Linked DNA regions of Homo sapiens: region 2 is linked to region 1. The links come from fine-mapping of genetic effects on gene expression. A gene starts in region 1. The other region holds a variant in brackets. All regions are shown on one strand. Distances are between the middles of the regions.

Region 1 (9,520 bases):
TCTGACGGTGAACTCCTTGAAGGCAGGGACATCTGATCTGTCTCTTTGTCCCCTGCACCTAGCACAGAGCCAGGCACACAGTAGGTACTTAGAAAAGATGGGTTGACTGAATAAGCAAATGCCTGATTGAGGCTAACTTGGTGAAATTTCAGCCTCTGAGCTGTAGGCCACGGAGACCCAGGCCCCGCACTGGAAAGTAACAGATAAAGGCATCTTTCTGACTCGTCCTTTCAGCAATCTAATCACATGCTGCTGTCTTTTTTGCATATCTCTTGTCTTCGGTTTTGTTTTGTTGTCTTTTTTAGCTACTTCATTTTTGTCAAAAGTGTTTTTTGTTTCTCAGTTTATCTTCTGCCTTTGTCTTCCTTCTCTTCTGTTCCTTGGTCACTCTCCCCATTCCTGCCCCATTCAAGCCTCCAACTATGGTCCTTGTCCTTCCCTGGAGTCCTTGTAGGCTTGAAAGCTTCTAGTCCCCATCCTTTATCTTGGAGCTTTTATAAAGAGTCCAAGCCATATAGATTAAGAACACAAGTGACATTTATTCATTAGATGGGCCATAGATCAAGCTTCTATATCCTGACCCTGAGTCAATTCTACCTGAATGCAGGTGGGGTGTGGGATGAGGGACTTCCTGCCTACAAGTTGTCACATACCTGTGTAGGATGACACAGGAAAAGTCATTGCCCTCCCTGCCTCCTCATTCAGGGTCCCAGTTCCTTCAGGAAGCCTTCCTTGATCACTTAAGAAAGCTTATTCACACAACCGTTCAGCAAATCCTTATACATATTAATAGTCTAACTGGGAGATAAGGCCCCATGAAAAGTTAGGTTAGAATGTAAGCCTTAGTATAAGTGTACAAGTTACCAGATGTCACAGATATCATAGGGCCAAATCAACTGCAGATACAAGTGATTTCAAAATGGAGATCTATATGACCCGGAGCAAGTGGTTTCTCCTCTCCAGGCCTCAATTTCCTTGGCTAGGAAACAGGGGATGGTAATGCAGACATTAGAAGGTTGTCAGCACGACTGAACAGAATAACTTTTGTAATGTTCCTCACATAGACTGGTGCATAATAGGTATTCAATAATAAATTTGATTCCTTCCCCCTTCTCTGTCTGAAGCACCAGCCTTCTACTTGCCCTGGGCTGCCAGATAAATGGTGAGATGTGACCTGGTCCATCCTTTCAGGTCAGAAAAGTATCCTAAGGACAGGATGACTTAAGCGGTACCTGGCATGTTAGAGGTCACTCAGTGTGATAATTCACTAGCATTGTTCATGTTCCTCACCTCTGCCCCCTCAAGCTGTGGGTCTTTGAACGAGCCTGGTGGGAACAGAGCTAATCAGCTGGCAAGTCCAGATACAAGTGTGGTCAGCTTGAGACATGGAGGTTTGTTTACCGCTGTATCTTCAGCTTCTAAAATCATGAGAGGCACACAGTAGGCACTCAAGAAACAGTTGTTGAATGAATACATTTTTTTAAAAGCCATGGAGTTTCCTTTTCCTTTCAAATAAACGACATAAGGGTGTGGGGAGTAGAAGGGGGAGGTGAGTAAATGACAGGGTTCAAGGGACACCAGGGCCAGGCAAATGCAGCTGCCAGGCCCACCAGCCCAGGCTCCTCTGCAAAAGGGATGCAGCAAAGTCAACAGTGCATGTGCTCCCACTGGCAGGATGAGCAGGAGTGCGTGCACGCCTGGCTTACGGTTTAAGCTGCAGTTTACAGGAGAAGCAGGGCAAAGTGGAGACAGAGCCTGGGAAGAAAGGGAGATATCTGGGGAAGAATGAGGAGGGTGAGAGAAGAGGAAGAGCAGTGTGAGGGGGAAAAGGGAAGTGAAGAGTGTTAGAGGAGGAAAGTGAAGAGTGAAGGAAGGAGAGGAGGATGAGGGGGAGGAGGAAGAGGGGAGGCACAGGGAAAATAGGATGGGAAGTGAGGAAGAACTGTGTTGAATTAGAGAGGGAACCTGCTGTACTAGCCTGGATGGAATTAGCAGATCTCTGAGATCTTACTGCCACTCGGTGTTTCCCCGGGAGGAGACTGCATTAGGGAGAGGGTGTGGATTTGGGGGTGTTCCTAGGTGCCAGACCCTGGGCAGACCTCAATCTCCCAGGCACTGAGGCCTTTAGTTCCATGCTTTGCAAATAATGAGGACCCATCCCAGGACCAGAGAGAGCCCTCCGCAAGAAGGAGAAGCCTGAGTCAGCACAGGGGAAGGAAGAAGGCCTAGGAGGCTCAGATCCCTAGCTCTGCCCTTCTGTTTCCATCGTTTCGCCACAACAGCACCTGGCCAGGAAAGTGGGTCAGGCCACCCACATGTGGCTTTTTCTGGTAGCCACAGGGCCCAAAGGCAAGGGGGCTCCAGTGCCCAGTGCAGAGCCCACCTCTACCCTCCATGCCCAGTGCTCTTTTTTGAAGGGATCTTTAAGAAGCAGTGGGCAATGGGAGGAGCTCCTGGCCTTCTTATTCAGGGACAAAACGCTGGGCCAGAGCCCATCCTAGACTGGCGGGAAAGGGGGGCACGGAGCCTGCCATCGGCCTGGGTGCATGGGGAGACCTACATCTTCCCCTATGACAGTGACCAAACTGGCAGGGAGTCACCTCTACTGCCCTGACCTAGGGAGGCTGTTCTCCTCACCACCCTAGGTCCTGGAGTTCTCAAGCAGAGGGCCTGTCAGTCCATCTCTGGCAACTGAGCGCTGTGCCCAGCCCACCCCCTCCAACCCTGCCAGTCGCCCAGTTAGAAGCTGCGTTGGCTCCAACAGATGGGAGCTGCGGCAGCCTGAGGAACAGAGCACAAAGCCCAGCTGACATTTTCCTTCCTGTTCGTTTGGGTGGGGGAGGAAGGGTAGGGAGCACAGTGCTACCCCCGGGGCCCCTCCCCAGGTTCCGGGTCTCCTGCACCTCTTTAGCTTCTCCGCTCGGCCCCAGATGGAGCTCAGTTCCCTCACCCCGCGGCTCCTCGCCGGCTGGGCAGCCAGAGCCTGCGCCACCCTTTGCCAGCAGGACAGACGGCCCACCTGTGGCTGGCCAGCCCATCCTGTCTCCTGGGTCCTGCGGTGGGCTCAGAGCCACCCTTCCGTTTCCGCTTCCCCCTGACCGAGTCCCCAGGCTGAGCCCCAGGCCGGCCCATCCCCCACCCCAAAGGTCCCATCCCAGGCTGCGGTCGGACCCCAGCCAGCCGGCCCGGGAGGAGCCTAGCTCCTGGTTCCAGATACTTCAGACAGACCCAAGGCCACCTTGTCCCTCCGCACAGACTCGCGAGCTCCAAGGAGGAGAAAGTCCCCAGGCTCTGGAGCGCTTCCAGCCTGCCAGTCCGCCCGTGTCACGCCCTCCCTAACCTCACTGCCACCTCTCGGCTCCTCCACATCTCCAGGGCCCCACTCTACCCAGCAACAGTTTGGGGGAGGTTCTGGCCTCTCCAGGCGAAGGCCCAGGCGCCCTCTCCCTGGCCGCTTCTGGGCATTCTCCAGCCCTCCGTCCCTCTGCCCCTCGGCCGCCTCCCTCTCCCAAGTCTCCGGCTCCCCCGCAGGCGTCTCGGCGGAAGGCAGCGGCCGGCCCTCCTCTGGCCCCCACCCGGGTCAGGCGGAGCTGCGGTGCCGGGGCAGGAGCCAGGAGCCCTGAGGCGGCTGCTCCGGCCGCTCCCGCCGCGTACGCCTCGGCCACGCCAGCGACCTCGGTGTCCACGATTCCCCGGCGGCGGCGGCGCTGCCCAGGTCAGCCCCGAAGCTGCACACTCACCCCGTGGGCGCCGGGCACCGTCTGCCGTCTGCTGCCCGCGCGGCCGCGCTCCGCTCGCCTTCCGCCCGGGGCCGGGCTGGGGACGCTGGTCCGCGCCCTCCCGCCGCGCGCGCCGTCTGCACAGGCCGGGGAGGCTCGGCGGGCGCCCTCCCCAACGTGGAGTTATCCTGGGAGCGGCTCCAGGGCCCAGCCGGTGAGGGCGATGGCAGAATCCCAATCCGTCCCCACCCCCTCTCCGCGCCCTGGGCGCGTCGCGGCCGGAGGCTGGCGGGCGAGAGCCAGGCGCTCCTTGAGAGCGCCGCGCGTTCGCAGGTGCCCGGAGCAGGCCCTCGCGGCGCCCGGCACCCCCTCCACGCGCGCCCCTCTTCCCGGCTTCGCGCTCGCCCTCCTCACTCGCTTCTCCGCCGCTCTCCCAACCTCCCCAGCCCACTCCGGTCGCCTCCTCCCAGTCTGCATGCCACGCCAACCCCCTCCAGTCCCGCTGCCATTTTAACTCCTGAGTGGCCAGAGGCCCCCTCTACCTAACGCACACACACCCGGGAGGAAGGAGTTGGGTGGGGCCAGACGCTAACGCTTGAGCTGTCCTTGTGCCTAGAGACACAAGGCTTGGCTGAGAGAAGGGGCACAGCCCTTGGGTCCGGGAAGAGAAGGGTTGGCTTCTCTCATACTGCCTCGGACCCTCTTGCAAAGGCCAGGAGACGAATGGGGAATTCAGCAGCTTTGTGAGGACAGGTGCAGCTCACAGTCACAGCATGCACCTAAGATCACATTTTTGCTTTGCATGGTGCTACCCTCCCGAAGTTAACAGTGGACTAAGGAATGTAGTGGGGTGGGTGAGAATTTGTCACTGGGCCCAGGCACCTCTCACCCTAAAGAATGGAGTGGAAGACCCCTTTAGTTGTCATGCTTTTCCAGCATTGCATCCTGAGCCGTGCAGCTCTAGCATTCTGGAAGATTCCGTCCTGGCTCTCAATGAAGGAGGTCAATTTCAGTCAGGAACTGGCAGGCCCAGTTAGGGGTTTGGCTTCAGGGTTCCCCACTCTGCCAGCTGGACATCATGAAGACTGGGGGAGGAAAGTAAGAAGGTGCCAAAGGTGGGTGCTAGGCTGCTGCCTGGTGGCTTAGAAAAGCTGGGTGACTGCCACTAGAGGAGGGCAAAGGCCCAATGCCCAACACCCATGCCTTGGTGGGGACTTCAGCCTGGACCACTCAGAACAGACATCACAAACTCGGCTCCATGGCAGGCCACACCCTACTGATGGGTCTGGACCAGAGCCTGCAGAACCAACAACAGGGGAATGGATGAGGTGGAGGCCAAGGTGTGGAGTCCTGTGAGGAGTGGCTTCCCTGGGCTGCCTGCCGTCATCCAGTGCTTGAGCTTCTGGCCCTGTCTTTTCCAAGGGTACAGCCAGTGGTGACTGCCATGCCTGGTGGCTTTTGTGAAGTTGGCTTGAAGGTCTGAGTTCTGTATGCACAGAGGGGATTCTCACCTTCATATATTGAATGAGCACATATTAAGTTCCCACTAAACCACCCCCATGTTCCCACTCTCCACCCCTGCTACGGAGCATAATGGCCTCAAGGAGCTCAGAGTGACAGGTTGGAACTATATGAAACCAATTTTAATATTTCAAGACGATGGAAGTGCCATAGAAATACAAAAAGAAACCACCTTAATGGACTAGCATTATTCACAAAAGGTTTAACGGAGGAGCTGAGTCTCCAACTGAGCCTAGTTGGAGGGATAGGATTTGAACTGGAAGAGAATATGGGGACCAGCAAAGGCAGGAAAGTGGAGACAAGCAGAGTAGAATGGGTTGTCTGGAGGGTAGGGGGCAAGGGAGGAAAATTATAGAGCTACTATTAGATGCCAGCCTTTTCTCATCTCTGTCATCTTAGACTCTGAGTTGACTAATATCCCCTTTTAACAGACCGGGGGATGGAGGCCCAGATCGTTTAAGGCAGTAGCCCAAAATCTGTAGGCAGAATGTGAGACCTCATTTTCACAGTGCGACAATGCCACATTGAGTATACAGGGTGGGAGCAGCTGATGAAGGGCCCGAATTGCCAGGCTCAGCAGTTTATCTGTGGACCCATCCTCAGGTGATTTGGGATGAAAGAGGCAGGAGGATGGGAGACTATTGAGGTAGCTGTTGCAGGAATCTAGGAGGAGGGGAGCAGTGAGAATAGAGTAAATGCATGGGCCTTTGTAAAGAAGACTTGGCAGAACTGTAAGACTGACTGATTGAAAGGGGTCAAAACTTGACTCCAAGCTTTTAGCCTGAGCATTTGAGTCCCTTGTCGAGTCACTGGAGCCACCTTTCCAGTCTAAGGGCCAATGTCAATGTAGACAGGATGATGGTGAAAAGGAGGACATTTTAGGAGTCCTTTACCAACTGCACGACCGGAGAGAGCACTCATGTCAGCACCCCAGCTTCCCAATAACTATGCATACTCAAGTGTCTTATCTCCTAACCAGAGGGTAAGCTTCTGGAGCCTATGACTGTCTTACACCTTAATAAGATAAGACCAGTCCTTTATAGTAGATGTCCAATAACTGATTATTGAAATAATAAATGGGATAAATGCAAGTAACGTTCACTAAGTGGTTGATCCTGAGTGGCAAAGCCTGTGAGATGTACTAGATGAGGCATAAGGGAATTTCATCAGCTGTGAGAAGAAAATAGGGGAAGGCTTATCTTGAGCTGACTCCAAATGTCTTAGAACCCAATGAGATTGGAGAAAGAGTGTAGCTTTTAGAGCTGGAAAGATTTGGATTTGGAACTCTACTTGTCCATTTACTCTGTCTTGCTTCAGGCAAAGTATTGAACTTCCCCAGCTCTGATTCTTTCCTGAGTAACGATATTAATTCAAGTAATAGCAGTTAACATTTATTGAGCACCTACTACATGCAAGGCAAGGTGCTAGCACATTTATGCATCATCTCATCAAAAATTTGACCAATACTAGGACTCTAGTGATAGGAGAAAAACAAGGTTCAGTGTTTACCTAACCAGTATGTAACAGAGCTAAGACGGGAATCCAGGGTCCTCAAATGACAGAGTCCAAACACCAAGCCAAGTCTCCCTAGCACTTCTTTAGGATGAAGATAGCAATAATGGAATGGATTCATACTTATAGGTTGCTGTGAGATGTTACAGGGACTATATGGCTGGCATGAGCACAGTGGCTGGTGCATGGTATGTGGTTGACATTTTTCTCCCAACCCTGCTCCCATTGCTGCCATTCTGAGTCTCATACTTTCCTGGGAAAAGCTGCCCCAATTCACAGTCCTTTGGAAGCTCTTAGGTAATTACCCAGAGGATTTAATGGCCCTGTTATTGACCTTTCACCCTCCAAATTTAATTTCTGGGCTTGGCCATGCATTATTTCCCACCAGGAAGCCTGGAACTCCGTGACATCAGAGTGTCTTGGGAGAGGGATGCAGGGATTACATGCTGCTAGAAATGATCCTTAGCTCAATTCCAGGTGGCTCTCTCATATAGGGGTCAGGATATGGAACTGGTGGGGATGCTGTTTGTGTGGTGGGGGCTGTGAGGAGAGGATGGCTCCTACTGGTGCCTGGCACATGAGCCGAATCAGAGAAGGGAGGCCTGGGATGTGGCATGGGTCACTGAGGGTCCCTCAGTGGACCCTCCACACACACGACACTGTGTGTTGTGTGCAGCCTCTGCTCAGCCTCCTTGGGAGATATGGGGTGGGGTCTGGGGAGTCAATGAGGACTGTTGTCCCCCACCAGTGACCCAACTAGGCAGAGAGTAAGGCACTAGAGCAGTGGACCTTGGAATCACCTGGAGAGTGTGGGCCAATGCAGGTGCTGAGGTCCTACCCCAGAGTCAGATTCTGTAGTTCTCAGAGTCTGCATTTCAGATAAACCATCCAGGGGATTCTGATTCAGGTGGTTGGATGACCTCACTGTGAGACAGACTGGCCTGGGGGTGCCCATTGCTCTCTGACCGTCCCCTGCCCGGGCTCCCCATGTGCAGAGCCTTGTTCTCTGGGCTATTAGAGAACAAGTGAAGGCAGAGGCAGAGGCAGAGGTGAAGGGAATGAAGCTCAAGTTTTAGGGCTTCTCGACTTGCAGGATGGTGGGGAGAGGGTGGGCTATGAAAGCTGGGAACTGTAGAGTGTCCTAGGTGAAGAGGGGAAGCCAGTTTACGAACAGGAAGCATTTTTATGTAAGGATTTCTGGTAAATGGAATGAAGAAATGTCAGGAGAAAGGGACCCTGAATGTCCAAGGCTCATGTAAATTGTTATCTTCTTGCTGGCCGTAAGTAAATATCACTGTTGTACCTAATTTTGTATTTGGAATTTTGCGGGTTTTTTCTTAAGACGGCCCCACAGAACTGGGATCTTCCCTGACCCCTGCCCTCAGGGAGCTCCCAGGATCCACAGACACCCTTGGAACACAGAAAACCGCAAAGGCAGAGAGACACACGTTGCAGATGGCAGAGCTGTGTGGAACTGCAGGGAGTCTTCAAATTTATCTTGGGTTATATTCCTGGAAAAGGCACTGCAGGTAAAAATGATGTAGGTTGAACCTGTTTTTGCCCAGAAACAATGTGATCATAAAAATTACATTCCTCACCAATGTCCCGGTGCCCAACTTTTTATAGGCATAAGCACAAACACCACAGACACCATATTTAATCAACCATAAATGATACACCTCTACTCTGTTTTTTTTTTAAGATGGAGTCTCGCTCTGCCACCCATGCTGGAGTACAGTGGCAAGATCTTGGTTCACTACAACCTCCACCTCCCAGTTTCAAGCGATTTTCCTGCCTCAGCCTCTCGAATAGCTGGGACTACAGGCGCGTGCCACCACGGCCAGCTAATTTTTGCATTTTTAGTAGAAACGGGGTTTCACTATGTAGGCCAGGCTGGTCTCGAACTCCTGACCTCAAGTGATCCACCCGCCTCAGCCTCCCAAAGTGCTGGAATTACAGGTATGAGCCACCACACCCGGCCCTGTATTTCTTTTTCTTTTCTTTTTTTTCCCTGAGATGGAGTCTTGCTCTGTCACCCAGGCTGGAGTGCGGTGGCACGATCTCGGCTCACTGCAACCTCCGCCTCCCGGGCTCAAGCAGTTCTTTTGCCTCAGCCTCCCAAGTAACTGGGATTACAGGCACCTGCCACCACGTCCAACTAATTTTTGTATTTTTAGTAGAGACGGGGTTTCACCATGTTGACCAGCCTGGTCTCGACCTCGTGATCTGCCCACCTCGGCCTCCCAAAGTGTACTCTGTATTTCTTAAATTGGATTTGAGTATCTAAAACAGTTAAACTGGGCAATAACCAAATCCTCTTCTGTTTAACATATTCAGAAGATTCCTGAAGGAAATGCTTTAGGTAGAAGGGACCATGGGAAGGACTGGAGTGACCACCCTTCCCCCATTCAGAACCTGTATGGGCAAAAAGGGAGGCCTCAGAGGTCTGAAGCTGGGGGACAAGGGTTTTGTGCCCCATGGCACATCTGAAAACAGACCAGCCAGCCAGCACCACTTGCAAGTATATCTGGCCTACTCCGAAGTGCATGACTTTTCAGTTAAGGGCTGCCACGCATACACCAAGACTGGGGGACACTTGAGAGGGCTCTAAGAGCTGAAGTTGGAATGCCATTTGGAGTGCTGATTTAGAAAGTCTTTCTGGAGGAGGAAAATCTTGAGAAGATGCTTGAAGGCAGGACAAAATAGTTAGGCTTCCTGAGAGGTCAGTCCCAGGGACTCTCAAGCATCTTTTGAGTTGACTTTTGACC
Region 2 (9,520 bases), 34 kb before region 1:
TACCACACAATTGCAAAAGATGCATTCCACAGTATATTAGATACCACCACACTGTTACCCACATCTGTCAGCTACTACCATCAGAGTGACTGATGACTTATCAAAAGCCACTCTGACATTTCCAAATGAGATATTTTGATAGAGGTGCCATTCAACAGGGCCAAAAAAGCAGATAGAACTTGAATGTAAATGAGGAACATTTGTCACCTTTGTCTCACCTATTTAAAGGTTTCTTGTCTGACAACAAGGAAAGGGAGAGAGGGAGTGAGGGGAGAGGAGGTGGAGGATGGGCAGGTAAGAAGGTAAGAGGGAAGGGGAGAGAGCACCAACTCCAAAAGAGCCCAAAGGAGAAGGGCTGGTCCCTGAGAGCAGTAGGAAGTGAAAGAGAAGCAAAGCCCAGATGGACGGCTCTGATTTTTATGCGGAGTCACTCTATGACTCAGCAGGAAGGAGCAGTATCAAGAACAAAGACCAGAGCTGTCCAAGGTGGCAGCCCCACATGAGGCCACTGGGTATTTGCAATGTGGCCAGTCCAAATGGAGATGTGCTGGACATGTAAATGTACACCAGCTTTCAAAGATTTAATATGAAAAAAGAATGTGAAACATCTCATTCATGAATTTGTTATTGATTGCATTTTGAAATATTTTTGCTATATTGGGTGAATATGTTATTAACTTCACCTGTTTCTTTTTGCCTTTTTAATGCAGCTTGCATTATATTTCTATTGAACATACATTTCTATATTCTGACAGACTGTGGATTAGAAAGACTTAGGTTCAAATCCCACCTCCACCACTTACTCAGGGACACTTGGAAGGTGAGCCCAGCTACAGCCACTGAAGACAAGATGGGCCAAACCATAGGGAAAGAGCACAGGGTTGGAACAGGATGGGCTGGGGTTGGCAGCATGTGTGGAAACAGACAGTGGGGAAAATGTGAAGAGGAAAATGTCAGAGAGGTGCAGCCAACTGCACCTTCCCACAGTGAGAGAGGGCCTGGGCAGGGTGCAGAAGAAGCTGTAACCTCTCCCAAGGCTGCCCTCACTACTGGGTACATCTCAATGCCAAATCCCAGCATGTCAAGAGTTGGAAGAAGCCTGAAAGAGAATCCAATCCAGGGACCCCAAGAAAATAGGCCCAGAGCCAGGAAATTCCTTCCATGTGCTTTCCACTGCTTCCCCCGCAGCACCTCCAGTTCGTATGTCCACTGAATTGAGGGATGGTATCCAAGAAGCAACCGCTGCATACCAACAATGAGGTCCTCTTGTATGGCCCTGAGAGTTTTATTCAAGGGAGGCTTCACCTGCATGGACTTGTTACCACACAGTTGGTCTTCTAGCCTCGCCCCCCCACCCAACCTACTTTTTGGTTAGGTTGGTTTGATTCATTCATCCATTTATACTCTGCAGCTGTGTGCTGAGAACCAGGCCATGAGCTAGGGATACAGAAATAAATAAGACCCATCCCTGCCCTCCAGGACCACACAGTCTAGTGGTTTTGAAATGTGGAGCTGTTCAGACCACAGCCCCCAACCCTTAAGGTGGTGACCTTCCCCACTTTACAGCTAACTGAGATTACCCAGTGGTGGTGGCAGGCCCAGACAGAGATGGCTCCTGACCAGAACAGAGGCCTTTCCACTAGCCGAGCTGCCTCCACTGGCACATGGAGGGAGAGGCAGCTGCGTGGCGCTGGGATGAGGTCAGGCCAGAGTCATCAGAAGTCAGGTGGATGCACCAAAGCCCAGACCCTGGCTTCAGAAAGTACACCAGGTGAAGGGATTTGTGGAAGGCCACAGAGCAAATCAGCATCAAAGCCAGGACAAGAACTCAGGGTTTCTGATTCCTAACTAAACTCTTCAACCAGTGGCGGCGACTCAAAGAGGTGAATGAGCACAGGGCCAGTCTGCAGCCAGGAGCTGCAGCTGACTCCCTTACCTGCTGCTGCTCAGGATGCAGGGTTGGTTCTCGCCTAAGAGCAACCTGCTGAGGGTCAGGCGCTCTGGGCTGAACAGCCCCACATTCAGAAACCACTAGACTGTGAGGTCCTAGAGGGCAGGGATAGGTCTTATTTATCTCTGTATCCGCAGCTCACGGCCTGGTTCTCAGCACACAGATGCAGTGTGTGAACGAATGGATGTGCACATGAATGAATCAAACCAACCCAACTGGAAACGAGGCTAAGTGGGGGTGGGAGGTGGTAGAAGAACATGGACAGGGTTGCCCGGGATGCTTTATTTTCTTCTTTCCTGCATCCCTGAACATGCCAGGCATTGTGCAGGCAAGAGAGGAAAGCAGTATCCAGGAAAGAAGACAGACAATTAAGCAAGCAATAAGAAGAAACATGAAGGGCCGTGAGTTCCTCCTGGGCCTTGACCCCTGTGTGACCTTGACCAGATCCTTCTCCTCTCCAGGCCTTAATTTGTTTAGAGGAACTGGAGTTAGACTAAATGGTCCAAGGTTCACTTCCCACACTGATCCCCATGACTGGCAGACATGGACGTGAGCCCTCTCCCGGCTGCAGAGAATCATGGCCTCTCCCCACCATGGCAGTAGGGGGTATGGGGAGAGCAAGGCCAGGCAGAGGCAACCTGGCGTGAAGAAGGCAAACAGACACTCCTGGAAGCAGGGTCCCCAGAGACTGTGCAGCCAGAGGTAACTGGCTGTGACAAGGAGTGAGCCAGTAGTCAATTCCATTCAATAAAACTTTGATTACCTATGAGCCTTGTAAACAGGCAGCTCCCCTGTGGGCTGAGCCGGAGGTGCTCTCTTCTTCCCTCCCTCTGTCCTGCCAGCACCTGCCCAGCCTGGCCCTGGGCCCTGTGCCAGCCCAAAAACTTCCTCAGCCTCTGATGCAAGGGGGGCAGCTGAGGGTTAAGTGCCCACTGGCAGGTGAGGGCTCAGGGCCTAGGGGCAGTGGGAGGGGAGGGAGCAGGAATCACTTAGCCCTCATTAGTCCAAATTAAAATCAGGAGTGAGATGACAATTCCAATTTGCAGTGGGCTAATTGTTTTCCCTCAGAAGCTGATCATTTTGCAGACTGGGGAAATTAATTGTTTGAAGTCCCAGGTGCATTGGCTTTGAACCCAGCGCAGGCCAGACAGGCTCTGCCTTTACCTCGTCACCACCCCTCAGGGACACACTCAGCAGTGGCTTCTGCCCTTTGGGATTCTCAGGCAGGGAGAGACTGAGGGTCAGGGGTGAGGGTAGGGGTCCTACTAGTCTTACCCTCAGGTGGGAAGAGGGAAGAACACTGGCAGAGAGGTAGGCTGGGAGATGCCAGCAGCTGGGGCCTGGCATCCAGGAGGGGTTGCTTTGCCTACCTGATGCCACCTGCTCTGCGGAGGGGTGTATGTAGGAAGCCTCCTTGGACCTGCCAGAAGTTCCCACTTCCACTCTGCATCCAAAAGTCCCTGTAAAGTTCACTCACTCATTCAACAAACATCAACAACCCACTGTGTGCCAAGTGTTGCTTCAGGAGGGCTGGGGACACGGCACTGAACAACTCAAACACAATCTCTCCGCTCATGGATTTTACTTGGGGGGATAGATGGACAATAAATGTGTAAGTAGACATCAGAGAGTGGTAGGGGCTCGGAAGGAATGACAGACAGCAGGAGGGATGGGGCTCCAAAGACTCCCACACTCTAATCCCAGAGCCTATGGAATCTGTCACCTTCCAGGGCAGAAGGAATCCTGCAGATGTAATTACGGTTATGAACTTTAAGATTAGAGAATGTCTTGGATTATCTGAGTAGGACAAATCTAGTCACATGAGTCATTAAAGCAGCTTTCTCCAGCAGCAGGCAGAAGAGGGATTCCAAGCGTGCGATGATCTGATATCCTGTTGCTGGTTCTGAGGAAGCTGTGCACAAGGACTGGAAGGCACCATCTAGGAGCCGAGGACCACCCTCAGCTGCCAGCCAGCATGGAAACAGGGACCTCAGTCCTACAGCCACCTGAATGAGCTCAGGAGCGGATCTCCTAGAGTCTTCAGATAGAGTCCAGCTGGCTGGCACCTTGATTTTGGCCTTTTGGAAACCTGGAGCAGAGAAATCGGCTGAGCCAACCCAGACAGACTTCTGGCCGACAGAGCTGTGAGATGGCAAATGTGTGTTTCTTTAAGCTGCTATGTTTGTGGTGATTTGTTATGGCAGCAATAAAAAGCTATTTCAGGAACTAAACAGGGTCAGAGGAGAGTGACTTGGTGCTGTGTTAACTTGGGTGGCCTCTTTGAGGAAGGGACTGACACCTGGATGATGAGGAAGCAGAGTGGGGTGACCAACTTGTCCCCATTTCCCAGTTTCAGCATTTAAGTCCTGCATCCCCCCAAAACCCCCCAGCCCCAGGCAAACCAGATGGCTTGTCACCATATGGCAGAAGGAATGGCCTGGGCAATGGCTTGGGGAATGAGAGCTTTCAGGTGAGTTGTCACAAAAAGCATCCCAAGGGAAGTTCTGTCGGACACAGGAGCAGGTGATGGGGGCTGCTGGGGAATCGCTCAGAAAACTCTTTCAAATGGGGACTGAGCAACTCTAGCTGAGGATAGGTGAGAACTCCCAGCCCTCCTTCCAGAACCCCATCCTCCTGCTGTAGGGCCTAAGAATTACCAGCCCCTGCCTGCCCTGCCCCGAGGCTGCTTCCTTTCTCCCCTGGCCCAACTCCCTTCCCCAGCCGGCCCCTGCCAGGGCCCAGGTGTCTCCCAGTGCCCGGGTACCAGGTGCCTGCTGTGGCTTTCCCCAGTGGGATGCTGGCATTCTGCCAAGCAGCACACAACAGGGGAAATTTTTGAAGCCGTCTTTAATTAGTGAGACAATAGGAGGCTGGGAAGCAGAGAA[G/A]ACAAAGGTTGCGGATGGCTTCACACCCTGTCAAAACAGCGGCTGTGAGCCTGAAGAATGCCTGAGAGAGAAAGGGAGACGGAAAAACGGAGATGGGCCATGGGACCCTTCCCCCTCCTCTCTCCCCTTCGCCCTCTCCTCTTCACCGCCCCCCCCCCGCCCCCCCGCCGCCTTCCTCCTTGCCTCCCTGAACCACAGCTGCAGGCGCCTTGACATTAACCCACCCCTCTCCCGGTTCAGCTGGTCACCTCCCAGCGCTGTTTCGAGTCAGGTAAGAGGCAGCTGTTTAGGAGTTCAGCAAGGAGGCAGAAGAGCAAAGAAGGACCGAGCTAAAGTTTTGGCTCCTTGTCTCATTATCTGGATGATGCCTGGCAAGTTAATTGCTGTGGGTCTCAGTTTTCTCTTCTGTACAATTAGAGTAATAATGCCTACTTTGCAGGGTGGTGGTTGTAAAGATTAGAGATGTCAAAAAGTGCCCCACATGGAGTAGGTACTGGATAAATGGCAGCTATTTCTAATATGAGAGCTTGCACCTCCCATCCTGGATCCCAGCCCTCCAATCCAATATTTCTCAAACTAAGAGCGTGCCCACGAATCACCCAGAGAGCTTGTTAACATGCAAATACCCATCCCACTCCTCAGGGTGGAGCCCGGACACCTGCAGATTGAACAGCTTCCAAGCAGGTGATTCCAATGCAGGCAGCTGGGTCTGCCTCCTGGGAAAAGAGCTAGCCCAGGGCAGTCCTGCAACTGGGTCCATTTCAGAAGCCATTCCCCTACAGATGGAGGGTGCTGGCAGGGAGGTGAGGTCTTGCCTATCCCACCAACTTGCTACCTTCACGTGGGGGTCTGTCCCGGGTGCAGCCTCCACATCTAAGCAAGGTGAGTTGGTCCTCAGGTCAGAGCTTCTGCGGAAGGGACCTCGGTATCCACCTCATTCTGCTTCCTTTTCAATGGAAGAAGCAGAGTCCCACAGCAGGGAAGTGACTAGTATTAGATGGTGCAAAAGTAATTGCGATTTTTGCCATTGAAAGTAACAGCAAAAACCACAATTACTTTTGCACTAGCCTAATATTAATATAAGGGCACACACTGAACTCTGGGCTTCTGATTCTCATCTGCAAGATACAAGTACCCAGCTACAAGATTGCTAGTCCCTCTCAATTCAGAAGTTCTAAGTTTCTCTAGGAGTTGGCTCCACTGACCCCAGGTTGGGAAACCGTGAAGGAAGCCTGAGGCTGATTGCCTTCTTGATCTCTAATCAATTTCTTCACACCTCTCTGATTTCTGGGCCAGGACGGCTGCTTCTCCCTTGCCAAATAATGATAGGCTGACCCTTACTGAACACTTGGTATGAACTAGGAACTGTTCTAAGCACTTTACTTGTATTAACCCATATCAGCCTACAACAACCCTGTGATGCCTTTATCCTCATTTATAAATGGGAATCTAAAATACAGAGATTGGCCCGGGTGCAGTGGCTCATGCCTGTAATCCTAGTGCTCTGGGAGGCAGAGGCAGGAGGATCACTTGAGACCAAGAGTTCAAGACCAGCCTGGGCAACATAGTGAGACTCTGTCTCCACAAAATATTTAAAAAATTAGCCAGGTGTGGTGGTGTGCAACCTTAGTCCCAGCTACTTGGGAGGCTGAGGCAGGAGGATCACTTGAGCCCTGTAGGTCAAGGCTACAGTGAGTTAGGGTAGTACCACTGCACTCCAGCCTGGGCAACAGAGTGAGACCCCATCTCAAAAAAAAAAAAAAAGAAAAACTATTTAGCTGGGCATGGTAGCATGCACCTGTAGTCTCAGCTACTCAGGAGGCTGATGTGGAAGGATCACTTCAGTCTAGGAGTTCGAGGCTGCAGTGAGCCATAATTGTGCCAGTGCACTCCCTCTTTGGTGACAGTGTGAGACCCTGACAAAAAAAAAAAAAAAAAAAAAGGATCTAGAGATTAAGTAACCTGCCTGGGGTCAAACAGCTGAAGCTGGGATTTGAATCTCGGCAGTCTGGCCCCAAAGTCTGTGTGCTTAACCACTGAGGAAGATTGTCCTTGAAGCCATACTTGTAAGTACATGATATACTGCCAACCCAAAGTCAGTAAGGACTGGTGTAAAGCGGACTGGATTAAGAATTAGAAGACCCAATTACCCGAGAAGGGGTACGAGGAGCCTTCTGGGTACTGAAATGTTCAAAGCTGTTCACTGAAGATTTATGGGTTTGAATACTGTAGACAAGTTTAATCTTAATGAAAATCAGAAGGCTTGGGTTTGTCCCAACGGTGGCCTATTTATTAGCTGTGTGACTATTAGCTTGTTAGGCCTTAGTTTTTTCATCTGCAAATCAGAACAATTAGAATGAAAGCCTGCTTTCTTAGTTGATAAGGAAGTTGTACAAAGTTCTTTCTTTGTATAGCAGGTCCCATCCAGCTGTCTTGATCCTTTTTGCATCCCCTGATCAAAAACTCTCCACCAAACTCTCCCTGGCGGTACTCATAGCATATGTGGCTACTTCCATCCTTCCCTGGACCAGAAGCTCTTTGATTCCATCCAAACATCCAAGTCATCCAACTTTGTGCTCATGCAGAAGTGGCACTTGGTAGTTACATCCATCATTGGCATTAACCAGTGCGTGCTGGAACCAGCTTGCCCCAGTCCATGAGAGCTGATGGAGCTCACCTCTTCCCAACTCCACCCTCAATAACATTACATAGTAGGTTGAAATTGGCTGTGATGGAAATACTGAAAACTATGAAAATTGGCAAACACTACAAATCAGGACTTCCCTTCTTGCCACCCCCCCAGCACAACACCCCTGCCATGAACCCAAAATGTTCCTCTCAAGTAGGCCCCAGGAGGTTTATAAGAGCTCTGGGACTACCAGTAGCTGGGGAGCTGTGGTCTGAGTGTAGCTGTTCTGAAACTTTAATGGGTGCAAAAGACATTCTCCATTCTCTAGCCCCTGTGGACATTCCAAGCTCCCCCAGGCCTTGCCTGAAGAAACAGCTGAGTGGCAGTGGGACACAGGTGGCTGGACCCAGCTGAGGTAAGTCCTCCAAGAGTGGAAATGAGGTAAGTTCTCCGACAGCGGAACTGACCACCCCAGCAAGTGGTGCTAAAACCTTGATGGCATCCCTACTTCAGGTCTCACCAAATTTATGCTCTACATTTGGTGGGTTTTGTTTTTGTTTTCTTGAGACAGGGTCTTGCTCTGTCACCCAGGCTGGAGTGCAGTGGCGCGATCTGGGGTCACTGCAGCCCCTGTCTCCCAGGCTCAAGTGATCCTCCCACCTCAGCCTCCCAAGTAGCTGGGACTACTGGCATGTGCCACCATGCCCAGCTAATTTTTTAAAAATGTTTTTGTTTCTTAGAGAAGGGGTCTTACTTATTTCCCAGGCTGATCTTGAACTCCTGGGCTCAAGTGATCTGCCATCCTAGGCCTCCCAAAGTGCTGGGATTACAGGCATGAGCCACCATGCCCAGCCAGGTGAGGTTTTTTTGTTTTTTTTTTTCTCCTCCTTCCTTTCTCTTCCTCTCTACATTCATTCAAGCACCAATTCCATGTATTTTCTCTGCCAGGCACTGGGAATAGATACAAGATGAACAAGATCCAGCCTCTGTCCTGAGGGAGATCTGTACCTAGCAGGGCAGACTGACAGACTCACAAATATGACTGTGGCCCTGGGGGCTGCCGACAGGACAAGGGCACCGAAACGCAGGATAATTGTGTTCAGAGCAGCACAGTGGCCCCCAGAGCTCCACGCTCCATATCTTTCCTTCCCTCCCTTTCCTTCTCTTCTTTTTTCTTTTCTTTTTTGAGACGGAGTCTCGCTCTGTCGCCCAGGCTGGAGTGCAGTGGCGCGATCTCGGCTCACTGCAAGCTCCACCTCCCAGGTTCACGCCATTCTCCTGCCTCAGCCTCCCCAGTAGCTGGGACTACAGGCGCCCGCCACCACGCCCGGCTAATTTTTCGTATTTTTAGTAGAGACGGGGTTTCACCCTGTTAGCCAGGATGGTCTCGATCTCCTGACCTCATGATCTGCCCGCCTCAGCCTCCCAAAGTGCTGGGATTACAGGTGTGAGCCACCACGCCTGGCCCCCCTCTATTCTTTCTTTGTCTCTTCTCTATCTCTGGCCTGCCCTTGGCTGTCTGCATCCACGTGTGTCAAAGATATAGTAACTGGTAGGTACAGTATGACATTCTTATCGAAAAATTAGAAGGTATAGAAAAACATGGAGAAAATTTAAACAATCCCCTTTTCTACCTCCTGGTGCCATAACCACTGTTAACATTTTGATGCATATCTTTTCAGGCTTTTTCTTATGATAGTAAATATTCTTAACAATTTGTCTCTCCCTGAGGTTCATGTCATCTTTCTTGTTTTCCACCTTGTTTTGGTAGAGTACATCTTTTTTGAGTTGCTTTTGAAAAAGAGCTAAGTTTCTTGAAAGTCTGAGTGTTTGAAAATTTTGGCACGAACATTTTTGCAAATGTTTGCATGTCTTTATTGAGCCTCCATATCTGACAGTTTGACTGGAAATATAATTTCAGACTGTAAATAACATTCCCTCACATGTTGGAAGACACAGTTCCATGACCTATTTGCGTCTAGGGCTGCTGTTGAGAAGTCTGCTCTATCCTAAAGCCTGTCTTTTTCTTCCTGGCTTGTGGAATCTTCACTTTAT

Alleles and levels. Alleles are on the strand shown, and positions count from the first base shown. SD is a standard deviation of normalised expression in the study named.
With allele G in place of A in region 2, the expression in thyroid of the gene that starts at base 4,159 in region 1 is lower (moderate effect, 0.43 SD a copy in GTEx).

What was found. PIP is the estimated chance that this variant, and not a neighbour inherited with it, causes the effect.
Region 2: its variant is fine-mapped to the expression of LRRN2 in thyroid (GTEx, PIP above 0.99).

Annotation. Positions count from the first base shown.
Region 1 is chr1:204,681,580-204,691,099 of GRCh38, forward strand. LRRN2 (leucine rich repeat neuronal 2) reads right to left here and starts at 4,159. Exons shown (of 2, transcript NM_201630.2): 1 at 3,741-4,159.
Region 2 is chr1:204,647,277-204,656,796 of GRCh38, forward strand. The region is part of intron 1 of LRRN2 (leucine rich repeat neuronal 2); the gene reads right to left. Among named protein-coding and RNA genes, the nearest start is that of LRRN2, 34 kb to the right of the region's middle. RefSeq lists an enhancer at 224-894. The variant G/A (reference allele first, on the strand shown) is at 4,837.